3 separate regions of the Homo sapiens genome follow, and all the other regions are linked to region 3. Evidence: fine-mapped expression QTL. A gene starts in region 3. Each other region holds a variant in brackets. All regions are shown on one strand. Distances are between the middles of the regions.

The links.
Region 1: its variant is fine-mapped to the expression of CERNA1 in blood mononuclear cells (TOPMed, PIP 0.95).
Region 2: its variant is fine-mapped to the expression of CERNA1 in whole blood (INTERVAL, PIP 0.90).

Annotation. Positions count from the first base shown.
Region 1 is chr15:52,199,116-52,209,475 of GRCh38, reverse strand. MYO5C (myosin VC) reads left to right here. Exons shown (of 41, transcript NM_018728.4): 36 at 833-922; 37 at 3,510-3,660; 38 at 4,329-4,611. It overlaps CERNA1 (competing endogenous lncRNA 1 for miR-4707-5p and miR-4767), which reads right to left. Exons shown (of 3, transcript NR_102751.1): 3 at 3,597-4,587. Among named protein-coding and RNA genes, the nearest start is that of GNB5, 13 kb to the right of the region's middle. The variant G/A (reference allele first, on the strand shown) is at 5,219.
Region 2 is chr15:52,151,254-52,161,613 of GRCh38, reverse strand. It overlaps GNB5 (G protein subunit beta 5), which reads left to right. Exons shown (of 13, transcript NM_016194.4): 4 at 7,538-7,674. Among named protein-coding and RNA genes, the nearest start is that of CERNA1, 24 kb to the left of the region's middle. The variant A/G (reference allele first, on the strand shown) is at 5,972.
Region 3 is chr15:52,175,437-52,185,796 of GRCh38, reverse strand. CERNA1 (competing endogenous lncRNA 1 for miR-4707-5p and miR-4767) reads right to left here and starts at 5,771. Exons shown (of 3, transcript NR_102751.1): 1 at 5,396-5,771; 2 at 4,595-4,747. It overlaps GNB5 (G protein subunit beta 5), which reads left to right. Exons shown (of 13, transcript NM_016194.4): 2 at 1,103-1,246; 3 at 5,918-6,029. The coding sequence starts at 1,121. RefSeq lists enhancers at 1,223-1,392, 5,241-5,330, 5,154-5,655 and a silencer at 5,701-6,360.

The sequences.
Region 1 (10,360 bases), 24 kb before region 3:
AATGTGCCCATATACCCTCTTCAGCCACTATTCCTTTCCCTCCACCCCGGACTGCCAAAGTGCTTAAACTAGTGTTCTCCACCAATTCTCTTTGTCACTCCTTGCAATCTGGCTTCTAACCCATCACTCTACAGAGAGATCACCAGTAACTCCTCTTACTAAAACCAGTGGTGTTTCTTTACTTTTTATTCTCTCTAAATTGACCAAAGCATTAGCACCATCTCCTTGAAAGCTTCCTCCCTTGTCTTTTAAATCCCAGGATTTTCTCTGTTTTCCCCTCTGATCACTGTAGCTCTGCCTTCACTGCTTGTTCCTCTTCTTCCTGCCCTGTAAGTGGAGGCCTTCTCCCCAACAGTCCTAGTCCTGAGCTCTTGTCTCTCCACCCATTTCCCTCAAAGGCTAGACCTCCTTCCTCTCTGAGGTTTCCCTGGCTGCTCTGCCTCCCCATCCTCTCTCCTCGTCCTCTGAGCTTTGGTAGCACAGTCTACAGCCATCGTATGGGCTCTTGACCACCTACTAAAACTCTGTTCTATCTTCCCAGTGAGAGTGTGAACTTAGGAGAGCAAGAAGTGAAACTTGCATTTCTCATGCATTCCTTCAGGACCCACTTCACACTTCATAATGAGTGACACAACCTGTACAGAAACATGTTACAAACTGTGACCTATTAAATAAATATAAGTTCTTATAAGTATAATATGAATTGGATAAAGGCTTTAGTGAATAAAAGAAAAACTAATTTTGGTCAAAAGCTACAAATAACCAAACAGGTAAATGCTCAGAGGTACAAGTAATCATCAAGACCAATTTTGTCTTTTCTTATTTTCCTAAGGAACATTTAGAAGACTTTGAAATGCTGTCCTTTTGGCTTTCCAACACTTGTCATTTTCTCAATTGCCTGAAGCAGTACAGCGGAGAAGAGGTAGGGGGCGCCCACCTGCTTGTTGTTTTGTGCTGACAGCCAGTCTATAACCTCCTCCTGAGCCAGAGCTCAATAGAGCCTCTATCCTCTCCACCAGGAGGCCAACAGCACATTATCTGTTGGACTCTTGGGCATACACCACAGGCAGGAGACTTCTGGAAGCAGCTTAGATTTTGGGCATGGTACTAGGCCTCCTAGGTCTCCATTACTTTTAAATCAATAGGTAGATAAGATGACTTTTAAGTTTCCTTCTGGCTGTAAGACGTTTAGCATTATGACTCTAAAATACAGGCTTTGGTTTAAAATGCCTGTTTCTTCACAGCTGTTCTCTCTACAGGACCCTGACTGTTCCTCCATAATCTATAAATATGTTTCCTTTGCCATTCCGACTCTGCTTCCAGGAGGCTGATGTCATGAAAGAGTTCTCCACCTTCAAGTACTCACAGAGAAAAATTTCATTGAACTAAAATAACAAAGTGGCTTTCAGGGTTTTCAGTGCTCTCCAAAATGGCTGTACCATTGCACAGCCCCACCAGCAGTGTATGATGTTTCCAGTGTCTCATACCTTCACCAACACTTGGTATTGACAGACATTTTTATCCTTTACCAGTGTCAGGGTATAAAATTATATCTTGTTGACTTAAATTGCATTTATTTGGTCACTAGTGAAGTCAAGCATAATTTTATATGTTTATTGGTCATTTGGGTTTCCTTTTGAATTGCCTAGTCACATCCTTCCTTTCTTTTTCTTAGGGTTGGTTTTTTTGTTACTGATTTGTAGGAGGTCTTTATATCATATGGATAGACTGTAGCTTAGCTTCTAATTTTCCTTATGAAGTCCCTTGTCACACAGTTTTTGAATTTTGATATGCTTAAATCTGTCAATCCTATTCTTTTATGATTTGTGTCTTAAGAAATTCTTCCCTGCCCTGAGATCATGAAGATCCTCTTCTAAACTTTTGTAGTTCATATTTAGAGTTCACAATTAATTATGTTTTTACCTATCCAAAATTGGTATGTAAGGTAATGATCTAATATCCTCTTCCATATAGATAACCAGTTGTCCCAATGGAAGGAAGTTAAAATAAAATATAACAGCAATCTGTCTAGTACTATAGAACAAAAGGAGAAGTAAAGAAAATCCAACCTCTGACTAAAAGGAATACCAAAACAGGAGGAGGCACAGACTAGTCCGTTTACAACAAACTGGCATCTGTGAGACATCAGTGGAAGAATGTTTTATTCAGCACTGTTTTATGATCCTTTCTTTGCCCCCTTCAGCCATGTATAGAATATTCTTTTCCCTGTCTGACTGCTTTTTCAGTTACCATATTTTTATTTCTAAAATTTCTCTTGTTCCTTTTCACCTCTGTCTCTTACCACAATGTCCTGTTCTTTTTTTTTTTTCTTTTTCTTTTTTGAGATGGGGGTCTCACTCTGTCACCCAGGCTGGAGTACAGTGGCACGATCTTGGCTCACTGCAACCTTTGCTTCCCAGGTTCAAGCAATTCTCCTGCCTCAGCCTCCTGAGTAGCTGTGGCTACAGGCATGCGCCACCATGCCCGGTTAATTTTTGTATTTTTAATAGAGATGGGGTTTCACCATGTTGGCCAGGCTGGTCTTGAACTCCTGACTTCAAGTGATCCGCCTGCCTCGGCCTCGCAAAGTGCTGGATTACAGGCGTAAGCCACCACGCCCAGCCCTATAATGTTCTATTCTTAATTTTTTCTTTTTCTTTAGTCTCTTTGAACATGTTAAACATATTCCATTAGTTCACTCAGGCTACTATAACAAAATACCGCAGGCTGGGTGGCTTAAACAAGAGATTTGTTTCCTCACAGTTCTGGAGGCTAAACATCTGAGATCAGGGTGCCAGCATGGTCACTTCCTGGTGAGGGCTCTCTTCCTGGCTTGCTGACAGCCACTTTCTCCATCCCTGTGTCCTCACAGGACCTTTCCTGGGTGCATGGGTCAGGAAGAGGGAGAGAGAGGGCAAGCTCTCTCTGGTGTCTCTTCTTATAAGGACATCAATCTTATTATTAGATCACGGCCCTATCCTCATGACCTCATTTAACCTCATTACCTCCCTAAAGGCCCCATCTCCAAATACAGCCACACTAGGGGGTTAGGGCTTCAATGTATGATTTTTAGGAAGACACATAAAATCCATAACACACACTTTAAAATATTTCAACTTTGTACCCTGTAAATTATAAGGTTATGAATCTCATTTATTGTATCCACTTACCTCTTCATAGCAGTTTGTTTCCTTGAATGCTCTGCAGTTTTGTTTCATTTTCCTATGCGCTTCCATGGGCCTTCTACGAGCTTTTCCATTTAGTCTATAGGTTCCAGGGACAATGTTTGTAGGGAAGTGGGTGGGACAATGACAGTGTGATAGACTGTGATCATACAGGAAATCAGTGCAATTTTTTTCTTATAGAAGGTACATGCTACCCCAAGCATCATGAACTCATTTGATATAAATCAGACATTAAGTTTTAAGGTAAAAGAGTTATAGTAGCTGATTATTAATTTCCTACATGTTTGTATTATTCTAATATTTTATGTTTAAAATTACTTTTAGGAATTCATGAAGCATAATAGTCCACAGCAGAATAAGAATTGCTTGAACAATTTTGACCTTTCAGAATACAGACAGATTCTCAGTGATGTGGCTATACGAATATATCATCAATTTATTATCATAATGGAAAAGAATATCCAACCGATAATAGGTAAGAAGAGAATGGATGACCAAAAAATATTTATAGTAACATTAAGACTTTTTAAAACATAAACTTGGTATGTGTAATGTGTGATTATGTGTAACATTGTTTAAAAAGCCAAGGAAATATAATCATGTAGATATCTGCCTTTTAATTCTTTGCTTGCTTATAATGATTCCATAAATAATAGTACGCTGTTGGTAGTTTTCTTTATATAAGGATGATTTATCCTGAAGGAAAAAACTTGGGGAAACTTCTACTACTGCTATTTATGTGGTACTTCTACTTCTTGGCGTAGCCAAGTATTTTTGAAATCCTAAAGCCCCATTCGAATTCTTGTATACTTTCCTTAATTTCCTGAAATTTAAATACTTTAGGCTTTAATGCCCAGGCCATGATTTGTCATGCTAAGCAGCTTTCTTTCCTGTGAAGCTGAAAAACGTGCTGCTTCAAACCTACAAGAGGAGCTGCAGCCCCGCTGGAAACAGCCGTCCATCCCTAACCCTGACACACACCCTGGTGTCCCAAACCCTTGATTCTTTTGCTTTCTCTATCATAAGTACATCCACTGACTCTTGTAGAAAAATGTCCCATCTCCTGAAACAAACCGAAGAGCGTCGGGAACGTTCCGCGTGTGTCTCCTGGCGTGTCAGCACAGCCTCCCTGTCTCTCCGCAGTTCCGGGAATGCTGGAGTATGAGAGCCTGCAGGGCATTTCCGGCCTGAAGCCCACAGGCTTCCGGAAGCGCTCCTCTAGCATAGACGACACGGACGGCTACACCATGACCTCCGTCCTGCAACAGCTGAGCTACTTTTACACCACCATGTGCCAGAACGGCCTGGACCCCGAGCTTGTGAGGCAGGCGGTGAAGCAGCTCTTCTTCTTGATCGGGGCGGTCACGCTGAACAGCCTCTTCCTGCGCAAGGACATGTGCTCCTGCAGAAAAGGGATGCAGATCAGGTAAAACCCAGAAACCTCCGCTCACGCGGAGAGGCCTGCAGAAAGGATGCTCTTGAAGTCCGAGGCCCCACGCGCCTGACCCTCCCTGCTGTGGCGTCAAACCCCTGTTTAGGCCCTACTGCTGTAGGGATATTCGAGTCACCCTAGGAGCCCCGGGATGCTGGCGCCCAGGGCCTACTCCCCTCACGCCACACCCTGCCAACTAGATGGACTGGCCTAGCCGCTTTAACCCAGAACCAGTAGATGTTCATCTTAAATTCTGGCCCTCTAGGGTGGTCATGCACTCAACCAGTAGTGACTACCTTCTCTGAATAGCACTGCCAGGGGGAGAACACAGGAAACAAGGAAAAGTCGATATGATCCCTGCCTTTGAGAAGCTCAGAATAGCTAAATAATAATGAAAGGCAACTATGATTAAATCACAAACAAGTGGTGCAGGAAATGTATCAGAGAGGAGAGACATTGCAGACGGAACAGTTGGGGAAGCCAGAGAGTTGTGCCTTGAGTGATAAAGGAAACGGAGAAGAACGTTCCAAGCAGGAGAAACGGTCAGAGGCATTGCGGGGAGTGAGTGAGGACCTCTGCTCAGGCTGCATGTGGAGTAAGC[G/A]GAGGCTGGTGTGGGGAGCAGCAGGACCAAGGTAAAGAGCTAGGTTGGATCCACACTGGGAGGGTCTGGAATACCAGGCTAAGGCATTTGGAGTTCATCCTGAAGACTTGGGAATCTAGTTTTGAGGTGTGTCTACTATCTCTTAATTGAGACACCATGGACCCTGAGCCACTATTTGAATTAACACTGATCAAGTGATTGGAAAACACATAATATAGGATATTTACGTTTCTTATAGTGTGTGCAGAAATTTGATACCTGTATCTGTTATGAGAACCTGGGGTAGTGATGATGGTAATGACGTAAGGGAAGGTGACAAAGAAAGTATCTATCATTATGCTAAGTGAAATAAGCCAGGCATAGAAAGACAAACATCAGATGTTCTCACTTATTTGTGGGAGCTAGAAATTAAAACAATTGAATTCATAAAGATGGAGAGTAGAAGGATGGTTACCAGAGGCTGGGAAGAGTAGTGGGGGGCTGAGTAGAGGTGGAAATGGTTAATGGGTACAAAAAAAAGAGAGAAAGAATGAATAAGACCTACTATTTGATAGCACAACAGGGTGACTATAGTCAATAATAACTTAATTGTGTATTTTTAAATAACTTAGAGGCCGGGCGGGGTGGCTCATGCCTGTAATCCCAGCATTTTGGGAGGCCGAGGTGGGTGGATCACCTGAGGTCAGGAGTTTGAGACCAGCCTGGCCAACATGGCAAAACCCTGTCTTTACTAAAAATACAAAAATTAGCTGGGCGTTGTGGCACATGCCTGTAATCCCAGCTACTCGGGAGGCCGAGGCAGGAGAATCGCTTGAACCCGAGGCAGAGGTTGCAGTGAGCCAAGATCACACCATTGCACTCCAACCTGGGCGACAGAGCAAGACTCTGCCTCAAAAAAATAAATAATAAAAAAGATAAAATAACTTGGAGTGTAATGGATTGTTTGTAACTCAATAAATGCTTGAGGAAATGGATACCCTATTCTCCTTGATGTGCTTATTTCACATTGCATGCCTGTATCAAAACATTTCATGGGCCAGGCACAGTGGCTCACACCTGTAATCCCAGGACTTTGGGAGGTCGAGGTGGGCGGATCATTTGGGGTCAGGAGTTTGAGACCAGCCTGAGCAACATGGTGAAACCTCTGTCTGTACTAAAAATACAAAAAAATTAGCCAGGCCTGGTGGTGCACACCTGTAATCTCAGCTACTCATGAGGCTGAGACAAGAGAATCACTAGAACTGGGGAGGCAGACGTTGCAGTGAGCCAAGATCGCGCCTCAGCACTCCAGCCTGGGGGACAAAGCAAAACTCCGTCTCAAAAAAAAAACAAAAAAAAATTTCATGTACCCCATAAATATATATACCTACTATGTACCCAGAAAAATTTTTTAAAAATTGAGTATCTTAAGTCAAAAAATACATGTGAGAGGCATCCCTTACACCTTTTTAGCATTAGTGAAACTTTGGAGTTGGAGTCAATCCCCATAGACCATTCCCACAAATTCTCATGACAGCAGGGCATGGTTTTCAGATAGAAAGGGGTATTCAGAAGGACTAGTCTTTGCAGATCTTTATGTCTTCATTGAGAAATGAGTTATGTTTATTTCACAAGCTCCAAGCAGATCCTGTAGTCCTCTGTAGTAGATTTCAGCCCTAAAGTAAAGCCACATCAGAGCCTTTGCTAAACTCAGTTCTCACTCCCTCAGTGGATCCCCCAAGACTGAGTAGAGACATGAATGAAAAGGATCATGAGGGAGACACATGACTCCAGGTCTTAGAACAACTTCTTTGAGGACAGGCGAACACCTGCCCCCCAGGTACCCAGTACTTTTTCCCTTCCACCAGGTGGAAGTGGCCATCCTTTTCTTTTTCTTTTTTGAGATGGGGGTCTCACTCTGTCACCCAGGCTGGAGTACAGTGGCACGATCTTGGCTCACTGCAACCTTCGCCTCCCGGGTTCAAACAATTCTTCTGCCGCAGCCTCCTGAGTAGCTGTGGCTACAGGCATGCGCCACCATGCCCGGCTAATTTTTGTATTTTTAATAGAGACGGGGTTTCACCATGTTGGCCAGGCTGGTCTTGAACTCCTACAGGCATATGCCATTTTTGTAGAAACGGAGTCTCACTATGTTGCTCAGGCTGGAATCTATGCTTCCAAATGGGGACGTTTAGATCATTTTAATGTAATATAATATTTATATTTAGGATTACCATTTTATTAATTTCTGCTTGTTGCTTCTGGTTTTCATTTCTCCATTTTCTTTATCTGCTTCTTTTGGGTTATTTGAAATTTTTTAGTATCCCTTTCTAAATTATCTATTTTTTTTTTTTTTTTTAGTATTATCCCTTTGATCTTTTTTCTCAGTTGTTGCTCTAGGGATTCCAGTACATATACTTAACTTTTCACAGTCTATTTAGAATCAATATCTTACCACATCAAGTGGAATGCAGAAATCTTACCATCATGTAGGCCCCTTTAGCCTCCCTACTTTATGTTGCAGTGGTCTTATATATTAGATCTACATACATCAAAAACTGTACCATACAATATTATAATTTTAGTTTTCAACCATCAAACATATTTTAAAGAACTCAATAAGAGAAGAATAGTCTATTATACTCAACCAGGTATTTACCATTTCTGTTGTTTCTTCATTCCTAATGTTCCAAGTCTCATTTTTTTCCAAGTCTCATTTTGATATAATTTTCCTTCTGCCTGAAGAAAGTATTTTAGTATTCCTTTTAGAGCAGTTTTGTTGGCAATAAATTATTAGTTTTCTTTCAGTTGAAAATGTCTTCACTTTACCTTTATTCCTAAAGGGTATGTTTGTAGGATGTAGAATTCTGGATTGACAGTTGTTTTCTTTCACCACTTTAAAAATGTTTTACTTTTTTCTAGCTACTGTGGTTTCAGATAAGAAATCCATAGTCATTTGAATTATTCCCCATAAATAATGCATAATTTTTCGCTGATTACTTTTAAGATTTTTTTTTCTTTGTCTTTAGTTTTCCATAGTTTGTGATGTGTCTGGGTGTGGATTTCTTTGGTTTAGCCTGTTTGGAATTTCCTGAGCTTCTTGAATCTGGCCATTCACCAAATTTGGTACATTTTCAGCCACTGTTTTTTCAGATATTTTGTCTGCATCATACTCTTTGTCTTCTCTTTCCAGAACTTCAGTGAACCAGCTGTTAAAGACTTTTTGTTATTGTCCCACAGGTCCATAAAATTCTGCTCCTTTTTCTTAGTTCTTTTCTTCTGTGCTGTTCAGATTGGATAATCTCTGTTAATCCTTTCAAGTTCACTGACTCTCCTCTGTCATCTCTATTCTGCTAGTAAGCCCATTCAGTGAGTTCTTTTATTTCTATTATTGTATTTTTCAATTCTAAAATTTCCATTTGGTTTTTCTTTATATTTTCTGTTTCTTTTCTGAGACTTTATATCTTTTGATTCATTACAAGAGAGTTTGGCTTTACTTTTTAGAGCATTTTTATGATAACTTCTTTAAAGTCTTGGTCAGATAATTTGAATATCTGTGTCATCTCAGTGTTGACTTCTATTAGTTGTTTTGTTTAATGTGAGTTGAGATCTTTCTGGTTCTTCATATGCCAATTTTGAATTGTATATTGGATATTTTTAAATACTGTATTATGAGACTCTAGGTCTTCATTTTTTAGTTTATGTTTTTATTATTATTATTATTATTATTTAGTTACCCAAGCTTGAGTGCAGCAGCACAATCTTGGCTCACTGCAACCTCTGCCTGGGTTCAAGCGATTCTCGTGCCTCAGCCTCCCAAGTAGCTGGGATTACAAGCACCCACTACCATATCTGGCTAATTTTTACATTTTTAGTAGAGACGGGGTTTCACCATGTTGGCCAAGCTGGTCTCGAACTCCTGATCTCAAGTGATCCACTCGCCTCAGCCTCCCAAAGTGCTGGGATTACAGGTGTGAGCCACCATCCCTGGCCAAGACTCTAAGTCTTTAAATCATATGGAGAATGTCAATATTTTCATCAGGCGGACAATGCACTTGGGTCAGACTGCAAGTTCTGACCACCCTCTATGCTTTGTGGTTCTCATGCCATTTCCATGTGTAAGGGTTTTGTGGTGCTCTTTGGGTCCGTTTCATATGTGTGAAAAATGGTGGCCAGCTTGGAACTTGGGTAATGGTATGTTTCATAGTTCAGTTCTTAAATTCTGTATATGCTGTTTAGGGTCAGATTCATGCGTGGGCTCAGGGATAAACCCAGGAGTTAATAAAGAACTTAACAAACTGCTTTTCCCAACTTTCCCAGGCTCCTCCCTTTCTGTGGCATTCCTATTACTTTCTGCCCCCTTTTTGGTGCTTCAGCTAGAAAACTGGAGCTTTCCTTAATTTGCTCTGCAGTGTACTTACTGCAGATGTCTCTATCTGGGGCCAAATGGTGAGGGCAAAGAGAGAACCTTGAACCACAGATCCTCCAATTGGAAGGGAAGTTTCCCTTCTCTTCGAGTTTTAGGTTCCTTCTGGCCTCCTTCGCCACCACTGCTGTCGACATGGGATTGGAACTTGAGCATGAGAGAATAGAGAAAAAGGAGAGGGAAAAGGTAGGGCATTGAGCATTAGGAGGCCCCTTTTCAGCTCCTTGAGCTAGAATCAGAGAGCTCCCCTGGAGCTCTTTGTTGGCATTGATGCCCACCTCTGAGTTTCAACCTGTGGCGAGTAGAGGCCAGTGAATAGCAGAGGGGAAAAGTGATGATCTCACTTTTGACTTGGAAGGACTTCAAATTCTGGTCATCTTCCCCAATACACCTGCTACTATTTACTTTTCCAAGTCCTCAAATAGCTGCCGAATGCATTCCATTCAGGCTTTATAGCTGCATTCAGTGGGACAGACAAGATGGAGTGTGGTTACTCCATCTCACTGGGAACTGGAAACCCACCACACATCTTTGAGTGGGAGAATTAATGTGCTCAAAATTCAGATTTTAGAAAGGACTGTGGCAGTATTTGAATAGGGTGAATTAGAAGGGCTGAGATGGGAGCCCCATTAGAAACCTGTAATAAAAACTAAAAGTAGGGCCGGGCGTGGTGGCTCACGCCTGTAAATCCCAGCACTTTGGGAGGCCGAGGTGGGCGGATCACGAGGTCAGGAGAT
Region 2 (10,360 bases), 24 kb after region 3:
CTCGAAGAGGTATGGCTGGGCACGGTGGCTCACACCTGTAATCCCAGCCCTTTGGGAGGCTGAGGTGGGTGGACCACTTGAGGCCAGGACTTCGAGACCAACCTGGGCAACATGGTGGAACCCCATCTCTACTAAAAAAAATACGAAAATTAGCCGGGCGTGGTAGCGCGTGCCTGTAATCCCAGCTGCTTGAGAGGCTGAGGCATGAGAATTGCTTGAACCTGGAAGGTGGAGGTTGCAGTGAGCCAAGATCACGCCACTGCACTCCAGCCTGGGCAACAGAGCGAGACTCTGTCTCAAAAAAAGAAAGAGGCATGGAGGATCCAAAGTTAGGATGTCTCCTGGACTAAGAAGCCATTGTCAGTGCCTCACCTACTCCTTGATTTTCTAAATAATGATAGCTACCCGCCCACAGATTCTCCCATTATTGAAGGTATGTAAATGTTCTTAGGGATCCAAGTATGTGTGCATGAGGTCCTTAGCCTCTCTGAGCTCCAGGCTCCTCATCTGTAGAAATGGAGATAAAGCCTTTGTCCTCAGGCTGTTGTGTAAAGCACTCAGCCCAGTGCCCGTCACCCAGGAGACACACAATCAATGGTGGATATTGGTAACATACATCAAAAGCCTTAAAAAATATGCTTTCCCTTTGACTCAGTAATTCCACGAATTGAAATTTATCTAAGGAGATAATACAGTACAAGGGTATCATGGTAGCCCTGGGACAAAGTAAGTGTCCACCAGTAGGAGATTCAGAGATTATAGTATGTATATACAGTGGAATGTTATGGAGTCATTAAAAATGATAGGCTGGGTGTGGCAGCTCACACCTGTAATCCCATGCCTGTAGTCCCCCAAATTTTATGTGGCATGTTGTCTGCTTATACACATATATATGTGTGTGCACATATGTGGAGGAAAGGCTGGAAGGGTACACACCAAATGATAAGAATGGTCAGGCTAAGCAGAATTGTAAGTGACCATATATTTTTATTTTATGATTATTTTTAATGAATATGCATTTACTTCTATAATTCTATAAAAGGCAATCAAGACAAAACCATCTCTCCATTCACAACCCCTCTTTTCATTCACCCCTTCTCTGCTATTCTAAACATGATCTCTAGTTTTCATGGCTCCTCCATTTCAAAAGCCCCGTTGCTCTCCGGGTCATGTTGTTTCCAGTCTTCTAGTTCGCAGCTCCTAGTACACCAACTCTAGATTTGCCACTCCTGGCCTGCCAGCTGCCTGTTAGGCACTTTAATTTGCCTTCTCAGTTGAACCTCACAACACTCCCATGGATTGGGTCATTGTCTGCCATTTTCCTAAAAAACAGCGACTAAAGTAGACATTAAGAAGCTAATTTCCTGGCCAGGCGCAGTGGCTCATGCCTGTAATCCCAACACTTTGGGAGGCAGAGGCGGGTGGATCTCCTGAGGTCAGGAGTTCGAGACCGGCCTGGCCAACATGGTGCAACCCCATCTCTACTAAAAATACAAAAATTAGCCAGGTGTGGTGGCATGGGCCTGGAATTCCAGCTACTCAGGAGGCTGAGACAGGAGAATCGCTTGAACCCAGGAGGCAGAGGTTACAGTGAGCCAAGATCACACCATTGCACTCCAGCCTAGGCAACAGAGTGAGACTCCATCTCAAAAAAAAAAAAAAGAAGCTAATTTCCCACCTACCCTTTTCCACCCCAACTCCTATGCATCCTTCAAACCAGGCTTCAGTGACATCACCTCTAATGACCACGCCTGCCAGCGGAGTCAACCCTGTTCCCCTCTGGCTCCCTGACCCTGGGTGACAGCCTCTGTCAGCCACCATCGCACTGCACTGTAGTTGTTACCTGGGTGCTGACCTGTCTGCCCCCTCCAGACTGTGAGCTCAGTAAGAGCAGAGACTGTCTTACTCTTTTCTGTACCCAAGCATCTGGCACAGCTCTTGGCACATAGTAGAGATTCTGGAACCATCATTCAAGCAGCAAACATTCACTGGCCTACACTTCCTCTTGAGTTCCAGCCATGACTTTGATTCTGATTCCTTGGTCTGGACTGGCATCCAGAATATTCAGCATCTCAAGCTTCAGAGGACCCAACTGAGCAGGGAGGCCACAGAGGCAAGCGTCCTCTCCCTGGACATGGGAAGGAGAACATCCAGGGACAGGGAGCAGTTTCTAGGCTGTTCCAGTCTGACCTTGGAGGGACCACAAAGAAGCGTGGTGCGGCAGATGGTGTGTCCGCTGGAGAGGGGGCTGCCAAAGAAGAGGAGTCTCTTCCCTGGTTTCCCTCCTCCAGTGTTGTCTCCATCGACGCTGTCCTCCAACGCTGCAGCCACAGATAGTCATGAGAAGGCAGATCCGACCATGCCACTCTTCTGATGACAGCAGGCTGCTGTCACGGTGGGATAAATGAGCTCTGTCATGGGTGTACAGCGCCATTACTTGCCTGCACCTACCCCTTACTCTGCAATCAGGTTGTTTATTCCACCCCTAAAAAATATTGATGTAAAAATTTTACATCAGTATTATTGTTGGGCCTTTGCTTTTGCCATTTCCTCAGCTTAGCGTACCCACCTAGGACCTCCTCTCATCTGACTCACCTTTTTATCCTTTCGACTGAGCTCAGATACCACCCCAAAAGACCCAGTGCAGTGCCCCACCCTCTGGGACAGAAGCTTCTTGTGTCCACACATCTAGCTTAGCAAGTCCCACGTTGTATGGAAATCATCATTATGGCTCCATCTCTTCCCTTGACTCTGAACTACAGTGAGGTCAGGGACTGACTCTCATATACCTGGATGGTCCCAGAGGCTGGCACAGACTGAACTGGAATGAACTAGGAAAGAGTTTGAGCTGTATCTGAATGGCGTAAGGGTTTGTGCGTGGTAAAGACCAAATCCAAGTTGCTCAGGGAACAGGATAGGGCCAGGAGGGGGAAAAGAAAAAAAAGGAACTTTAAAAAAAAAAAAAGGTTGGTGAGCTCCTTGGATCAGAAAGTAGGTCTGAAACCCTGTGTGTGCCTCCCACTCCCAGTGCTAGTGAGCGTGCCCTGTTAAATTGGTGAGTTGCTTGACAGCTGAAGTAGGGATGATGGATTAGGGATAGGGAGAGGTACAGAAAAAGAAGGCAAAGAGGCATTGTTTTGTTCGCCCACCAAAGACTGCTGCTTAGGATTGCTACCGTTGATTGAAGTTTAATCAATACTAAGCATTTCATTTATTCCTTCAGTAAATATTACTGGGTACTCACTGTACGCCATGCTGGAGAATGTCATAGCCAACCCTTATGAAGTGTTCCCTTTATGCCAGGCTTGAATAGTTGTCCCCGCAACCCCACAGGGGAAGAGAGGTGGCGAGAAAGTACATGATTTGCTCGAGGTTGTGCAGCTGGTGTGCGACAGAGCCAGGCTTTGACCCAAGCCCCCAAATCCAGAGCCTGGATTTTTAACTGCTTTGCTCCAGTTTTGCCTCTGAAGAAGATCAAACAAGACAGCACTCCTGTCTTCCTAGAGCTAGTGGAATTTCTTAACAGGTTACCATTATATTCTAGCAAATTCTTATTATAGAAACCAGCTGGTTATATTCACCATTAAAAAAAAAAATTAAATCCTGGAGGAATGGTCCTCCAGAAGGCAAAGGGGAAACTACATGTGTCCTGAACCAAGTTCACACAAATAATACCCAGCACATATTCAGCTCATTTCCAGGTCTTTTTTTTTTTAACTTCCTAATGTTTAATTTTTAAAATTTGTTTTAATTCAGTGGATGCAAAATTTGGCAGATAGAAACAGGATGGAGTGGGTTGGCAGTGATCTACATGTGGGAAGAAAAAATGTAGTGAGAAAAAATAATTAATAGTTGGGATCTATTCAAATTCACATTATGTAAGGAGGGCCCTATTTTGGTTGGGTGAATCATCTTTTTTATTAAAAGGGAAATTATCAAAAAGCTATGGCTATCCTAATGCTGAATTGGGGGAAGCAGCAATAATATTGATGTAAAATTTCTAAGTAAAATACTAAATACAATATGCTCACAACTCTGGGCCGATAGAGCCTTATATAAAAGGCCTATATGGCTGGGCGCGGTGGCTCACTCCTGTAATCCCAGCACTTTGGGAGGTGGAGGTGGGTTGATCACGAGGTCAGATGATCGAGACCATCCTGGCCAACATGGTGAAACCTGTCTTTACTAAAAATACAAAAATTAGCTGGGCATGGTTGTACATGCCTGTAATCCCAACTACTCTGGAGGCTGAGGCAGGAGAATCACTTGAACCCGGGAGGTAGAGGTTGCAGTGAGCCAAGATGGCACCACTGCACTCCAGCCTGGGTGACAGAGTGAGACTCCGACTCAAAAAAAAAAAAAAGGCCTATAAGAATCAGGCCGGGTGCCGTGGCTCACGCCTGTAATCCCAGCACTTTGGGAGGCCGAGGCTGGCGGATCACAAGGTCAGAAGATTGAGACCATCCTGGTCTAACTTGGTGAAACCCCATCTCTACTAAAAATACAAAAAATTAGCCAGGAGTGGTGGCGGGCGCCTGTAGTCCTAGCTACTTGGGAGGCTGAGGCAGGAGAATGGCGTGAACCCGGGAGGCAGAGCTTGCAGTGAGCCGAGATCCCGCCACTGCACTCCAGCCTGGGCGACCGAGCGAGACTCCGTCTCAAAAAAAAAAAAAAAAGAATTTGGAAAATTCAATCTATTTTTAAACTTCATTCGATGTATTTTGTAAAGAACGTATTTGTAAAAGACGAATATGCTGTTTGTGGCAGTAAATAATGCAATGTTTTAGCAGAAGCAATGGCATAATAATTGAACATTCATGTAGCACTTTAGAGTTTAGCAAGGTTTTTGTTTTGTTTGTTTGTATTTTTAGACAAGATCTAGCTCTGTCACCCAGGCTGGAGTGCAGTGGCGCAATCTCAGCTCACTGCGACCTCTGCCCACTGCGACCTTTGCCCCCGGGCTCAAGCAGTTCTCCCACCTCGGCCTCCCAAGTAACTGGGACCACAGATATGTGCCACCACATCCAGCCAAGTTTTTGTATTTTTGGTAGAGACGGTTTCACCATGTTGCCCAGGCTGATCTCAGACTCCTGAGCTCAAGCAGTCCACCTACCTTGGCCTCCCAAAGTGCTGGGATTACAGGCGTGAGCCACTGTGCCTGGCCTAGTTTAGCAAGTATTTTTACAGTTTGAGTTTTCACAAAGACTTTTAGCCCATGTGCAACTTTGCTCTTTTATCACAAGGAAATGAGGCAACTAAAAGGAACTTTTAGTTCCATGGAGAAACAGCTGATTTTAGAGCAAGGACAGGGAAGGAACAACGGAAGCTTGGAATGAGAAGTGCTCAGACTATGAGGGGGACATGTCAGAAGGTCATGGGAACCTGCTTGACGGGGCTCCCCATCACCTGGGACAATTTGAAGATCAAAGTCAATAGTATTAGTAATGGATTACAACCTCTTGAATAAAGTAAGAACCCATGAGTCTCTACTAATGTAAATGAATGAATAAATAAATAACTGGGAGAGGAGGCAGAACTCCTCCTTAGAAAGCTGACTAATGAATGCAGAGGGAAGGATGGAGTGAGAAAGATCACCACTTGCCAGCCATCATCACAATCACTCATTCAGGCCAGAATCATTAGTGGAATTAAAATAAGGCCGTTGAGGTTTGAGGGGTAACATGTTTACATAGCCTCAGAGTACCTCCCTAACAAGACACTTTTCATTACAAAAGATAAAATGGTAACTCTCCAGTGGAGAGACCTGGCAGGTGTCCCCTTAACCAGATGATCCCCGGTGACCCCACCAGCAGTGGGACTCATGTGCCCAGGTGGGATGCAGTGACATTAACTCAGCACCCCATCTCTGTGTCCCTGCCAAATGTGTTTTACCCAAGCTAATCTCAAGGAAGCATTAAACCACATTACAAGAAGCAGCCACATAACTGGAGGCTAAATATAACTGGAGGCT[A/G]AATATAACTGGAGGCTAAACATGCAACTGAATGCAATCTATGATCGTGGATTTTCTTTTGCTATGAAGGTTATTATTTGGACAATAGGCAGTATCTCAATAAGTCTGTAGATTAGTGTTGTTTCAGCATTAATTTTCTAATTTTGATGATTACACTTTGGTTATTTAAGAGAGTTCATTGTTTTTAGGACATACACACTGAAGCATTTTGGGGAGGGAAGGATGGGAGGAAGGATTTCCCAGGAAGGGACGCTGCTGTCATAGGACTCAGACCACAGAGTTGGCACCTCTCGGCACAGGCTTCCATTTGAAGGGAAATGGGCCACGGCCCCGTCAAGCCTCAGCAGCTCCCTGGGAAGACATGAGGGGCAGCTGCCTTGCCTCTTCCCACCCTGTTCCTCTGTCTGTTTGCGTAGGCTGTTTCCCCCTGAAAATGCCCTCTTCCCTCCTCACCTACCTGGAGAAAGGCCAGCTGGGAGGTTTCAAGGAAGGAGATGTAGATGGACAGTTCAGAGCCCTGGCTTCTCCTTCTCACATAGCTACCAACAAGAGAGGGAAGTGGAGAGTGGCCATGGGATCCCTGCAGACCTTGGCGTCCTCCCCTGCATGATGAAGGGCCTGGACCAGCTGGTCTTTGTGGCTTTCCAGCCACTTCCTACAAACTTGTCCCTCTCAGACTCATCAGTCTCAGCTTCTCTGCAAGCCCCTAGAAAGCCTGCCCTTGGCCTCAGGAAAGAAGCTGTGGTCCCAGCCCTGAGAGATTGACTTTTGGATCTCCTTTCTGGTGTAGGTGGTGCTGTGAGTGGATCATATATTCAGACTTTTAGGACATTGCATTGATTTCTGTGGACACTAGGTTTTTCAGTAAACTCACAGGTGTGCAGTTTGCAGACAGCTTGCTTGGCAGTTTGCTGGTTCATTCTTTCCTGCGCCATGTGTATGAGGAACCTGCCATGTCCAGGCCAGTGCTAGGCACACAGGGTCAGCTAGACACGGCAAGCTCTAGAGCTGCAGGGTGTACCTTATAGTCCTGTTGGAACAGTTTTGTAAAGTCAGTTTTCGTTGTGATGAGAGAGTGGTAGGCAGGAGAACTAGAAGCCCCAGCCTGGTTCACTGTTGATTGTATGAACTTGTCTTAACCAGATAACCTCTCTGAGTCTCAGTTTCCCCATCTGCTAAATGGGCATAGCGGTCTCACTCTCCTGCCCATCCTGCCCTCCTCTTAGAGCTGTGGCCCTTAAAGGGAATAATTTTATGTAGTGCTTTATGAATATGAGGTGGTCTTGTTGTTAATCCCTCAACATGCATAGATAAAACTGCTTTGAAAAATGTAGGGTCTTAAACACAAAGAGAGAATGGCAGTATTGTCTCTACCCTCTACTGATCTTAAAAGAAGGAGTGCTGCTAGGATGCAATGGTAAGGAATCAGAGAATCAAGCTGTGGCTTGTTATGGAGGAAGCCCATGGGGCCGCCTCCCTCTGCGGAACATATGTCTGTGCTGTGTCAGCCCAAAGCCCAGAACCTGGTCCTTAGCAAGGGGACTGACTATGGCCTTGTCATTCCAGTGCACCAGGTGGCGGAGCGGGTGGAGGCCCTGGGGCAGTTTGTCATGAAGACCAGAAGGACCCTCAAAGGCCACGGGAACAAAGTCCTGTGCATGGACTGGTGCAAAGATAAGAGGAGGATCGTGAGCTCGTCACAGGTATGTCACACCTGCTGCATAACAGGTGAGCGGGTTTTGGATTTTATAGCTAAGGGGGAGGAGAGCTGTCCCTTTCCAAAAGCCCTTTTCTGATCTTTGTGACTTTGCTCATTCTCCAAAGGATGTGATTTAGCATAAAGAACTCTCTTACATATTATAGAACTTCATAATTTGGGTAGATTTAAAGTTGGTAATAGTTGAAACAGTAGACTATATGTAACCAATATGATGAACCATTGAAAATAATTTCAAAGTCTTATTTGTAAATGAAACCAGTTTTTAAATAGTTTCTTTTTTTTCCAAATTGAGGGCGTAAGATTCTGTCAATGACTTTCTTTCAATTTAAGGAGCTTAGCAATTCTTATGTCATAAAGAACAATGTTAAGATACAGATCTTGTAAAATACAATTTTAAAAATCATATCATTTACAGTTTATTTTATATATTATTTATTAGTTATCTATTCCTCCAAAAAATTACCCCCAAATTTAGCAGCTTAATTATCTCGCATGGTTTCTGAGAGTCAGGCATCTGGGAGTGGCTCCATTGGGTGGTTCGGGCTCAGGTGGTTTGTGAGGTTGTGTGAAGATGTTGGTCGGGGCTGTGGTTGCCGACAGCTGGACTAAGGTGGAGACTCACTTCCAGGGTGCCCTGTTCACGTGGCTCTTGGCTGGAGGCCTCAGTTCCTCACCATTGGACCTGCTCACAACATGGTAGCTGGCCTCTCCCAGAGCGAGTGATCCACAAGAAGGGGCAGAGGCAGGGCCATGCCATATTTCATGACCTGGCCTCAGAGGTGACAGTCCATTGCTCCTGTTGTATTCTGTTGGTCACACAGAACAACCCTGATACACAGAGGAAAGAGACTATAGAAAAGTGTGACTATCAAGAGGCTGGAATGATTTGGGACTCACTTGGAGTCTGGCTCCCACAGCTTAGTACTTTTGATGTCTATTTTTATGTAACATGTATTGAACATAAAGCTATAAACTGAAGTCACATGACATATTCTACAGGCTGGTTATAGTGGCTCATGCCTATAATCCTAGCACTTTGGGAGGCCAAGGCAGGAGGATCACTTGAATCCAGGAGTTCGAGACCAAATGGTGAGACCTCGTCTTTATAAAAATAGAAATACAGAATCAGCTGGGCATGGTGGTGCGTGCCTGTAGTGCCAGCTACTTGGGACGCTGAGGTGGGAGTATCGTTTGGGTGTAGGAGGTCAAGGCTGCAGTGAGCTGAGATTATGCCATTGCACTCCAGCCTGGGCAACACAGTGAGACCCTGTCTCAAAAAAAAAAAAAGAGAGATATTCAGCCAGGCATGGTGGCTCACGCCTGTAATCCCAGCACTTTGGGAGGCCGAGGCGGATGGATCACCTGAGGTCAGGAGTTCAAGACTAACCTGGCCAACATGGTGAAACCTCGTGTCTACTAAAAAATACAAAAATTAGCTGGGCATGGTGGTGGGAGCCTGTAATCCCAGCTACTCGGAAGGCTGAGGCAGGAGAATCGCTTGAACCTAGGAGGCGGAGGTTGCAGTGAGCTGAGACCATGCCACTGCACTCCAGCCTAGGCAACAGGGCGAGACTGTTTTTTTTTCTCCAAAAAAAAAAAGATATTATATAAATCCTATTTTTATGATCAGCATAGGTTTCTCCCAACCCCTGCCTTGTGCTCAGTTTTTCCAAAAGCAGGTTGGTTTGCTTTTTTTTATAACCCTTGTGAAACTGGATATACTCTAGATAATCCACAAACTGTAACGTCTGTGTCAGTTTTGCGTTTGATAGGACAAATGTTATTACTCTCCTAGATTACCTACAAATCTAGTATGTCACATTGCACTTGCTTTTTTTTTAAGATCAAAATAAATTTATCACTTATGTATTCTACCACATTAAAGAAACAAACAAATAAAAACCTTTTACTCCCACCATCCTGTCACAACCATTATTATTTTTTTCTTTTTCTTTTTTCTTTTCTTGAGATGGGGTCTCACTCTGTTACCCAGGCTGGAGTGCAGCTCACTTCAGCCTTGACTTCCTGGGCTCGAGTGATCCTCCTGCCTCAGCCTCTGAAAGCACTGAGATTATAGATGTGAGCCACCTTGCCCTGCCCATTATTATTATTTTAGAGCACTTCTTTCTAGTCTTTTTCAAGAGCTTATTCTTATAAGGTGCTTATCAGGATATCCATGTCGCTCTCTAGCCTTTTGACTTCTTAAATCCAGACAAGGTAGGCTTTGTGTTGGGTTTTCTGTCACTCACATACTGCTGTTGGGAGGGAGGACCTTCAGCAGGGCTGGGCACACACTGTCCATCCCTCTCTGCTCCAGAGCAGGAAGAGGTGGATGTGGGTGTGGGGAGGAGGCTGGAAAGCAGGAAGCCTCTGGAACAGACTTGGACTCATCAACAGCCTTCCTGCTTAGATGCAGGAGAGTAGTCACCCCAGCCATGTGGGATTAAGGCTTGGGGATAGAGGCACATTCTCTCTGGGTACGTAGGCCCCTGCACATAAATCTGTGCTCACCGAGGAGACCACACTTAGTTTAATGAGACGCCAGAGCACACAGTGGGTGGCACACACAGGGACTCCAGAGCACACATGGGGGACAGGCAGGCAGTGAGGTGGAAGAAGCCCCTAACGTGGTCGCTGATGTGGGCAATGCTAGGAACCAGTCCCCAGCC
Region 3 (10,360 bases):
ATAATAATAATAATAATAATAATAATAATAATAATAATAATAAAAAGATGAATACACAGCTCAAAGTGGGGACTAGAACGTTATTGCTGTCTCATTTTCATGATTCTCTGGGCCTGATAATTTAAAAGGGCTTGCATTCCTCAGATAAAAGTTACTTTCTCACCTTTAGTCCATGACTTCCTCGCGTCTTGTCTGAACCGTTGCCATAGGCTCCTCTTATGCTTTCTTTGGCATCCCCAGCCTCACCCTGCCCCTACCCATGTCCCTCCTTCCCAAGGCAGCCACTGTTCCCGCTATTGCTGCCACTCAGGGCAGCATGACCTCGCTGGCACACTCCCTGTATTACCGACCTTGAGCTAAGTGCTTTACGCACTGACTCTTATCATTCTCTTGACAACCCCAGAAGGGTAGATTTTAAGATCTCCACTTGACAGATTAGCAAAACCAAGCTTCAGAGAGGTCAGCTAACTAGCCTCAGTGGTGGGCCGGGACCAGGCAGCCAGAGCCTGTCCCTGTAACCACTAGATGCTTGTGCTGCCTCCCTGCAGCGGCCTGGGCCTGTCTGTTGACTTCCTTGTGAACAGGCAGGGACCCTGGGTCTTTGGCTGTCAAATGTTTAATAAGTGAGTGCTTGCCTTGCACGGAACCCACACCACACTTACTCAGGCCCCTGGCTTTGGTTGGGGTCAGGCTCCATCATTTGCTGACCCTTATCTTTAAAAGTTCACCCTGAGGGGAGGAATGTTTTTAAAAGTTTTAAGTTATAGCATCCATTACAAAAACGTTTTCCATTGTGAAACCCCACAGAATTGATATTGTGCTGCAAGGATCAATCCTGCCTGACGCAGGTCTGCCAGCTGCCAAAAAACTGGTTAAACGTGTTAAGTTCAGAAAACCTATTGTCTGATGCTTTCTCACTGATTAAATGAGTTGTATTGACCCAGCATGTTGTAATAGTTGAAAGGTTATAAATTAACTGCATATACTCTATCCCACATGTAGACGTCTGAATAGCTACCACGGTACAAGCAAGAAGAGATTTTAGAAAGTTAAAACCATTGGCTTTTCTCACACCCCCTCCCTTCTTTTCACTTTTTTTCAGCTTTATCTTGGGTAAAAGATGTGTGATCAGACCTTTCTCGTTAATGTATTTGGCTCATGTGACAAATGTTTCAAACAACGAGCTCTGAGACCAGTTTTCAAGAAGTCTCAACAACTCAGCTACTGTTCAACATGTGCAGAAATTGTAAGTGCCACTTAAAAAAAATTCAGTTATCTGTCTTAAAACAGTCAAGCGAGGGTCCTGTGACAGATGAGATGCCATAGAATCAGCTTATATAACACACACTTTTCAGTATGCCTGGGCTTGGTGAGGCAGTATAGTACAGAGGTTCAGGGTGTGGACTCTGGTGTCTGACTGCCTGGGTCCAAATCCTATTGATGTTCCTAGTTATTGGTGTGCAAGGAGGTTCTCACCTCTCTCCTGAAGCCTGTTTTTCCCATCTGCAAATAGGAATGCTAATAGCACCTACATCATAAGAGTTTTATGATGATCAAATGATTTCATTTGATAACTTATTTTAAATAGTACCCAGCAAGGAAAGTACTCAATGAATGTTTTAGCTTCTATTATTTCTTAGGGCTAATACTTTTTTCTTCTGACTTCTACAAGTCTGCTTGGCAGGCAATCAAGCTAAAAGAGAAGCTGGCAAATAAACAGTCTAGGAGCATCTTTCCAAGGACCGGTCCCAGTGGTGTGTAGGTCCAGCTCTAATGAAGATGGAATCTCACAGGGCCTCAGTAGTGAGCAAAATTCAGCTCAGAAGTACTCCTTGGGCCTAAGCCTTCAACAAAGACTAGGAATGGAATACAAATCCTGGAATTTTTCAAAGTACACAAAATCAAGTCCTCACCAGAGGTGGCTGTGCACAGGCTTCAGATCTTGCAGCAAAAATGCCCACAGCATCACTGAAGCCCTAAGAATTAGTCCTATCTCTGAGAATTTGCAAAGCTGCGCTCAATAGTGCAGCTGAGCAGAGCCCCCACTTGGTGAAAAGTGGTAAAGCACTCCTCCTGAAAAGCCCAGTAGGAAATCCCCACACATTTAAAAAAACAACAACAAAATCCATAATACAACCAAAGAGAGGAAAGATGACTTTTACATTTTATCTAACTGAAAAAGAAAAGGCACTTTTTATCCTCCTGATTCCACTGTAACCCCTGACCATGATTACATTAAAAATTATTCCCTTAAAGCAAATAGCAAGTAAACAGCCCAGGGTGGCATAAAAAGGCTTTGATACAGCATAGCAATTTGGATATGTCTTCAGCCTAGGTGTAGTGGGCTTCTACCTGTAGTATATTTCTACAGTCTACGTTCTAACTTGGCCCTGCAAATTGTAGAACTGAGGACATTTAGTTCTTAAAAATAAACCTGCTTTCTGGGGGCCTTACCCCCCCCCCATTATTTATTAATCTAACTCTTCTGCTTTTTAAACAACTTCCTCTGCAGGTGGAATAAGCCCAAGAATCCCAGATTTTGAGTCCTCTGTGGCACACAGGTTCTCCCTAGCACAGGGGCCATGCCTGGAGATACTTTTCTAGGGAATAGTTGCCAGCTAGCGCTACTATTAGGTTGGGGCAAAAGTAATTGCGGTTTTTGCCATTGCTTTCAATTGAAGCAGTGGCACGATCTCGGCTCACTGCAACCTCTGACTCCAGGGTTCAAGTGATTCTCGTGCCTCAGCCTCCTGAGTAGCTGAGGTTACAGGCACAAACCACTATGCCTGGCTAATTTTTGTATTTTTAGTAGAGAGAGGGTTTCACCATGTTGGCCAGGCTGGTTTTGAACTCCTGACCTCAGGTGATACACTCACCTTGGCCTCCCAAAGTGTTGGGATTACAGGTGTGAACCACTGCGCCCGGCCCACACAATCTTACTTAATTCTCATAACAATTCTCATTGCTTTCAATTGAAAGCAATGGCAAAAACCACAATTACTTTAATACAATCTCTACTCTCTACTTGGGGGTTCCCAAATATTCAGACAGCATCATTCAGCTGAAGAGACATCCAGTGACTGACAGCTGGCCTTTCATCCAACTGTTTGGGATTATGTAGACACAGTCCCCATTGGGCCCTTTTTGTGAATAGGAGTGACCCTTTATCTCAACCACTGTGGAATGTAGCTGACCTCAACTTTTCTGATATCCAGCTTCCTCAGTGGGAGTTAACACCAAAATACAAGAAAGTACTTGGAAAACTGCCTAACCATTAAAAGTCTGATGGCCTCATCTCTAGATAGTTGACTCTCCAGGTTGGAGGCTGTTCGAGGTTTATTTTACACAAAGAACCCCCAGAAGAGGGCACACACCAGTGAGAAGTACCACGTGCCTCAGGTCTTCACAGCCAGGAGGACCTTGAACCACACACACATCCTGCAACGGTCCAAACAGAGCCAGCCTAAGGAGGTGATGAGATGAGGCTGCCTTGCCTGGGCCCCCTGAGATGGCCCTTGTGAGAAGAATCCCCCATGACCCAGTGTCTCATTTAAATTACCTCATGTGAACTGCTCAAGCGTATCAGGCAGCCTCAGTAATAATAACAGATGCATACTGTGTGCCACGCACTGCTCTCTCCGAATGCCATACAGAGTCTGAAGGAGGTGTTGTCCCCCATTCACAGATGAGGAGCCTGAGGCACCACAAGTAAATCCCTCAGGCCACAGAGCAGAGCCAGGATTTGCCCCCAGGCAGTCAGATCTAGATAGAGCCTGTGCTCTTAACCTTTTGCTTTACAAACTCTCAAACAGGTGTAATATTTTTGCTTTTATATATTCTTATCTTATACTTAATAATTGTATTTATATATTTATTCATTTATAAACATGTTTGTTATATGTTTATATTTTTAACATAGTTTATACAGATTTATATATTTTATATATTTTTTATACATCCATTTAATAAACTAGCATTAACTGAGCACCTACCATATGCAAGTACTATGCTAAATATCTAAATACTAAGGAACAGCGACAAGTAAACCTATTATTATACGGATGGGAACGGAAAAGAGAACTAGCAGTGAATAAGCATCTGCTATGTACGGAGAAGTCTGCTAAAGTCTTCACCCACACTATCTTACCTTTTTTTGTTTTGTTTTTGTTTTTGTTTTTGTTTTTTTTGAGTCTTGCTCTGTTGCCCAGGCTGGAGTGCAGTGGCACGATCTCGGCTCACTGCAACCTCTGATTCCAGGGTTCAAGCGATTCTCGTGCCTCAGCCTCCTGAGTAGCTGAGGTTACAGGCACGTACCACCACGCCCGACTAATTTTTGTATTTTTAGTAGAGAGAGGGTTTCATCATGTTGGCCAGGCTGGTTTCGAACTCCTGACCTCAGGTGATACACCCACCTTGGCCTCCCGAAGTGTTGGGATTACAGGTGTGAACCACCGCACCCGGCCCACACCATCTTACTTAATTCTCATAACAATCCTATGAAGCAGATCCTATGAAGAAGCTTTTCCAGATAAGGAAACGGAGGATCCCAGACTCTAACCTGCAAAACAACTATGTACAGATTAACATCGAGTACCTTCAACTTTTCTCAGATAGAGAAGGCCCGGGACAGCAAGTGGAGGCTGGCTTCTCTGGGAGGGAGCAGGTACAGAGAGGTGGGGACAGCACCCAAGATTCTGCTTGGCGATGTTCTCGCAGCATCTGTAACTTTGATCTGCCTTCTCATTCTCTGCACAAACGCATGCAAGATCACATAGGAGGGAAAAAGGAGAAGGCTTGAGTTGGATCATCCACACCAAAGTCCAGAGCACTAGGGAGCCAGCCTGTCTGGGTCCAAATCCTGTCTCTCCCTCTTTCTTGGAGCATGCCCCCTGAGCAATTACTCAGTCTTTCTGTGCCCCAGTTTCCTCTTCTGTAAAGTGGGAATAAGTGTGCCCATTCAAGTTGACTCCTGTGAGGATTAAACAAGTGCAAATTAAAGCACTTAGAACAGTGCCTCTCACACTTCAGGCGCTTGCGGAGAGGGGATGCTTCAGTCTGACAGAAGTCGCTAAACGTGCATCCTGGCAGAACTGTGCCAGCCCTTCATTCTAAAGGGCAGGAGGTGGCCTCAGAAGTGAGAGGTCCGAGATGCCTGGGCGTGGGCTCAGAAGCCCCAGGTCTGAGCCTGCGCGCCCACTTGACCCACCGCCATCTCCTTTTGCCGCCCCCAGGCCAGGGACCTGATTCCTGCGTGAAGAAAAGAGAAAATAAGGGTGGGCCTCCTAATGCCGCAGAGACTCCGTCTGAGAACCCAGCAACTAGTTTTATTTTTGTATATTTAGATCAACAAACGAAGAGGGTTTCCGGTTCCTTGTTGGGGGAGCACCGTAGCTACCTGCGGCCAAGCCTCGTAGCCGTCTCCTCTCCCGTCCTCTCTCTGCCTGCAGGAGCCACGGGCCCGCAGCCCGCAATCAAGTCCCACAGAGCGGAGATCTGCACGAGAGGCTTGGGGATGGGAGGGCCATGTCGCGGGGGCCTCACCGGTCTCCCCAGAAGCGGGGAGTCCCGAGTTGGAATCCCGGCTTGGCCCTTCCCTCTGTGTGCGTCCTCGGGCAAATCACCCAGCATCCCTAAGCCACAGTTTGCCCGCTGGTAAAATGGGCGTCACACTCCCTGCCTCTCCCGGAGGAGAGAGGCTGACGCGGACATCGCACCAGGCACTGCGCCAGAGCGCGCGCCCAGGTGCGGGGTCTTGGGGCTCAGGCGCAGCAGCCGGGCCCGCAGCTGCTGGCGTCATCGCGGAGGGCGGGGCCGCGGGGCGGTGCTCGGGGCCGGGGACGGCTGCTGGAGCGGCGCCCGCCGCGGCTCAGCGCATTCCCGCTCTCCGCTTCCCTCTCCGCTGCGTCCCCGCGCGAAGATGGCAACCGAGGGGCTGCACGAGAACGAGACGCTGGCGTCGCTGAAGAGCGAGGCCGAGAGCCTCAAGGGCAAGCTGGAGGAGGAGCGAGCCAAGCTGCACGATGTGGAGCGTGAGTGCGGGCCGGGAGGCGGGCGGGGCAAGCCGGACCGGCTCGCCACTTCCCGGGCGGGGACGGCGGGGGCGGTGGGGGCGGTCGTGGCTGCGACGGGAGCCAGGCCCGCGCCACCGCCCGGGAGCAGGGCCCTGGGGCCCGGGCGCGCAGGTGAGGCGCGGGTAGCGGTCCCGATCCCCGGGACGCGCGGCGGTGGGGCCCTCGGAGGGTCCGGGCACCTGGCCGACCCCCGCCGCCAGCTAGCGGAGGACCGCGGGACTAGCTATCCTCATCACCTGCCTGGAAGCTGCGAACGGATCGCGTTCTTGCCCCTCCCATGCGGAGGGCAGGGGGTGGGGTGTCGGTGGTGACGAGCGAGCGCGGCGAGCCCGTGTAGGCGCGGCCTAGGAGAGACTCCTGTTTTGTTTTTTAATGCCCGTCTGGCTTTCTCCATCACTGTTGTATCTTTTCTCAGTTTTGCTTTTATGAGACTGCAATTTCAAAGCTCATTTTTCCAACCTCTCCCCTATCCTTGGGGCGGGGAGCTGGATGACGGAGAGAGAAGGGAAACGGAGGAGCTCACTAAATTCAACCGTTCAGTTCGTTTAAGGCTGTTTAAAAAGCTTTTGGATCGATGTGGTGGATTGGCATAAAAAAGCCATAGCGATCTTAAACTTGCATTCTTCACCACCACCACCGTAATTCAGAACTGGCTCTGTGATTTTTATGAGTGAGCGATTAAATAGCCAGGTTCAGCGGCTCTTGGCCAAAACAGCGTTCCTTTACTTTGTCAGAGGGCTCCTCCTCAGCAGAGCTTGGGCTGGGGGCCAGGCTTGGGGAAGTGGTTGTATCTGCTCACTTTTGAGCTCTGAGGGTGGCATCTCCCCTTTGCTGAGCACCTCCCACGGTGCCCTCCTGCACACCTTGACGTTGTTCTCCTGCCATTCCTAATCGATGCCACCCTTTACATTCTATGTGGAATGGAAAAATGGGGTTCGTGCTAGGGCCTTTACCTTTTGATCTCTGAAGATCACTTAAGAGAAGTGGATGACCTGGATCTAGCGTGTGCTGTGCTTTCCTAGGGGTCTTCTTTAAATAGGAGGCACTCTAAGCTTAGAAATCCTGTCCAGCAATCACTAACTGTAAACCCCAAATAATGTAGTTATGCAAATTGAGAGTTACTTTTCTTACATAACAAGAGCAAAGGTGGATGATCACCTGCTGTTGTTCAGCTGCACCATGCACCCCCCACCAAGGGACCCAGGCTCCTTCTGCCTTTCTTCTCCACACCTTAGAGCAGTGGCATTTGCCCCATGATTATAATATGATTGCCACAGCTCCAAACATCACTTCTGTATCCAAGGCAGGAAGAAGGGGGAATATGGACACCAATCTCTCTTTGCTCCCTATCAAGAAAGCAAAGCAAAAGTTTTCCCAGAAATCCTTCTCCCAGTTTGAGACCAGCCTGGCCAACATGGTGAAAAGTATTCATAGGTCATCTAATTTCTCCATTTGACAGATGAGGAAACTGAGGCACAAAGAATTAAAGGACTTACCGAAGGTCCCCTGCTAAGTGTTGGGACCCGGATTCCCCCCAGGCAATCAGAGTGCCAGCTCAGGCTCACTTCAGATTATTTTCGCCAAACCCGTTTTGAGCTTCATGCAGAGGGCGTTCTCCAGAAACTCACTTATTCAATAGTGCAGGCTGCATGCCTGGATATTTTCAGGTTTTCTGTGAATTTGTAAGTTGCCTTAAGACAGAGAGCAGAGATGCAGCTTTTCAAAGGGAACCTCAGGGGGCAAATGTAGTCAATCCAAAAGAAGAAACTTTTTTTTGTCCTGCCAAGAGTGTGGTGCCCTCAAAAGCTAGGGCCAGATTTTAGACCCACAGTGGAAGGGTCTATCCCTACCTGCATATGTCAGAATTTGTGAGCTGGAAAGACCAGAAGTCATGTGGTTGTGTCCCTCTTGATTCCCCTGCAGCTTCCAGACCACTTCTCTTCTACCCCGCATAAAGCCTTTGCTTCTTGAAGGTTCTTATCACTGTATTGACCTCTTCCCCTTTGACATGTCTCCTGATCTCCCAGCCAGGTTCTCTCATTTCTCTACTTTTCTTTTCTTTTTTTTTTTTTTTTGACACGGAGTCTCCCTCTGTCACCCAGGCTGGAGTACAATGGCACAGTCTTGGCTTACTGCAACCTCCACCTCCCAGGTTCAAGTGTTTCTCCTGCCTCAGCCTCCCAAGTAGCTGGGACTATAGGCATGTGCCACCACACCCAAGTAATTTTTGTATTTTTAGTAGGCTTCACCATGTTGGCCAGGCTGGTCTCGAACTCCTGACCTCAAGTGATCTGCCCGCCTGAGCCTCCAAAAGTACTGGGATTACAGGTGTGAGCCACCGCACTCAGCCATTCTTTTCTTTATTCATCTTTATTTTTAAGAGACAGGGTCTCGGACCGACAGGGTGGCTCACGCCTGTAATCCCAGCACTTTGGGAGGCCAAGGCGGGTGGATCATGAGGTCAGGAGATTGAGACCATCCTGGCCAACATGGTGAAACCCCGTCTCTACTAAAAATACAAAAATTAGTTGGGCATGGTGGCAGGTGCCTGTAATCTCAGCTACTTGGGAGGCTGAGGCAGGAGAATAGCTTAAACCAGGGAGTTGGAGGTTGCAGTGAGCCGAGATCTTGCCACTGCACTCCAGCCTGGGCGACAGAGCGAGACTCCGTCTCAAAAAAAAAAAAAAAAAAAAAAAAGGAGGAGCTAGGCAGAGGCCCCAGGAGGGGGTGTGTTTGGTGTATCTGATGTATCTGAGGAAGAGTGAGGAGGCAGGTGTGTCTGGAGGGGAGTATGCAGGGCAGAGTCCAGCTGCAGGTTATGCTGGGAGCTCATGCAGGACCCCATGGGTGCAGTGAAGATTTGGGCTCTTACTCCCAGTGAGTTGGGAAACCCTTGGAGGGTTTTGAGAGAGAGGATGGATCTGATTGCTTTACTGGGCTCACTCTGCCTGCCATGTTTTGTGGCAGAACAAGACAGCTTGAGGGAGGGAAATGAAGTGTGAGAGGTAAGTGACCTGGGGTAAGAGTTCTTGACAAATGTCTCTTTCCCTCTTATCAGAGAGCCTACCTTGCGTGCCACTTGCCAGCTCCTAATGGAAGTTACAGCTGAAGGTGGAAGAGCGAGAGATGATTTCTGAGCTTGTCTTGGTCCCATAGTTGACCCTGCAGCCGCTCTTACCTTACCCCAGCCCAGACTCGCCCAGCTCCTTCCTAAGTGTGTTTGTCCCTTGGCACTCAGGTGGGAAAGGGAGGAAAGGATGCTGATGAGTTTTACTTGTGGAAGTATAAGCTAGAGCCCTGCCAGGTGCAAACAACAGTGCTGTCATTTTTCCCTGTATGAAGGAAAGTGGTATCATCCCCATCTGTGCGATGAGCGAGCAGGCTTAGCAAAGTCGAATAATTCCTTCAGGGTCATGCAGCTGGTTAGTGATTGGGCCAGGATTCAGTTTAGGAATGATGCAGCTTTCTTTGCAGGGCTCCCCATTGAGCAAGTGGCTGAGAGCCTGGGGGAAGGTGGGAAGGGTCTGGTGAGGCTGGGGAGGACCATAAACTGAATCTGTTCACTCCCCAGAGCAGGGGCTGGCAGCATGCACTTTCCTGTATCTCTTATGGTGACTGGCAGCCCCTTAGTTAACAGATGTTTTTGTTTGTTTGTTTGTTTTGTTTTGTTTTTTTTTGAGATGGAGTCTGGCTCTGTTGCCCAGGCTGGAGTGCAATGGCATGATCTCAGCTCGCTACAACCTCCACCTCCTGGGTTCAAGCAGTTCTCCTGCCTCAGCCTCCTGAGTAGCTGGGATTACAGGCACATGCCATCACACCTGGCTAATTTTTGTATTTTTAGTAGAGACAGAGTTTCACTGTGTTAACCAGGCTGGTCTCGAACTCCTGACCTTGTGATCCGTCCACCTTGGCCTCCCAAAGTGCTGGGATTACAGGTGTGACCCACTGCGCCTGGCCGTTTTTTGTTTGTTTGTTTGTTTGTTTTTTGAGACGGAGTCTCACTCTGTCGCCCAGGCTAGAGTCCAGTGGCACAATCTCAGCTCACTGTAAGTTCCACCACCCAGGTTCAAGCGATTCTCCTGCCTCAGCCTCCCAAGTAGCTGAGACTACAGGCATGTGCCACCATGCCTGGCTAATTTTTGTATTTTTAGTGGAGACCGGGTTTCACCATGTTGGACGGGCTGTTCTTGAACTCCTGACCTCAGGTGATCTGCCCGCCTCAGCCTCCCAAAGTGCTGGGATTACAGGCGTGAGCTAATGTGCCTGGCCTGACAGATTTGTTTCTGACA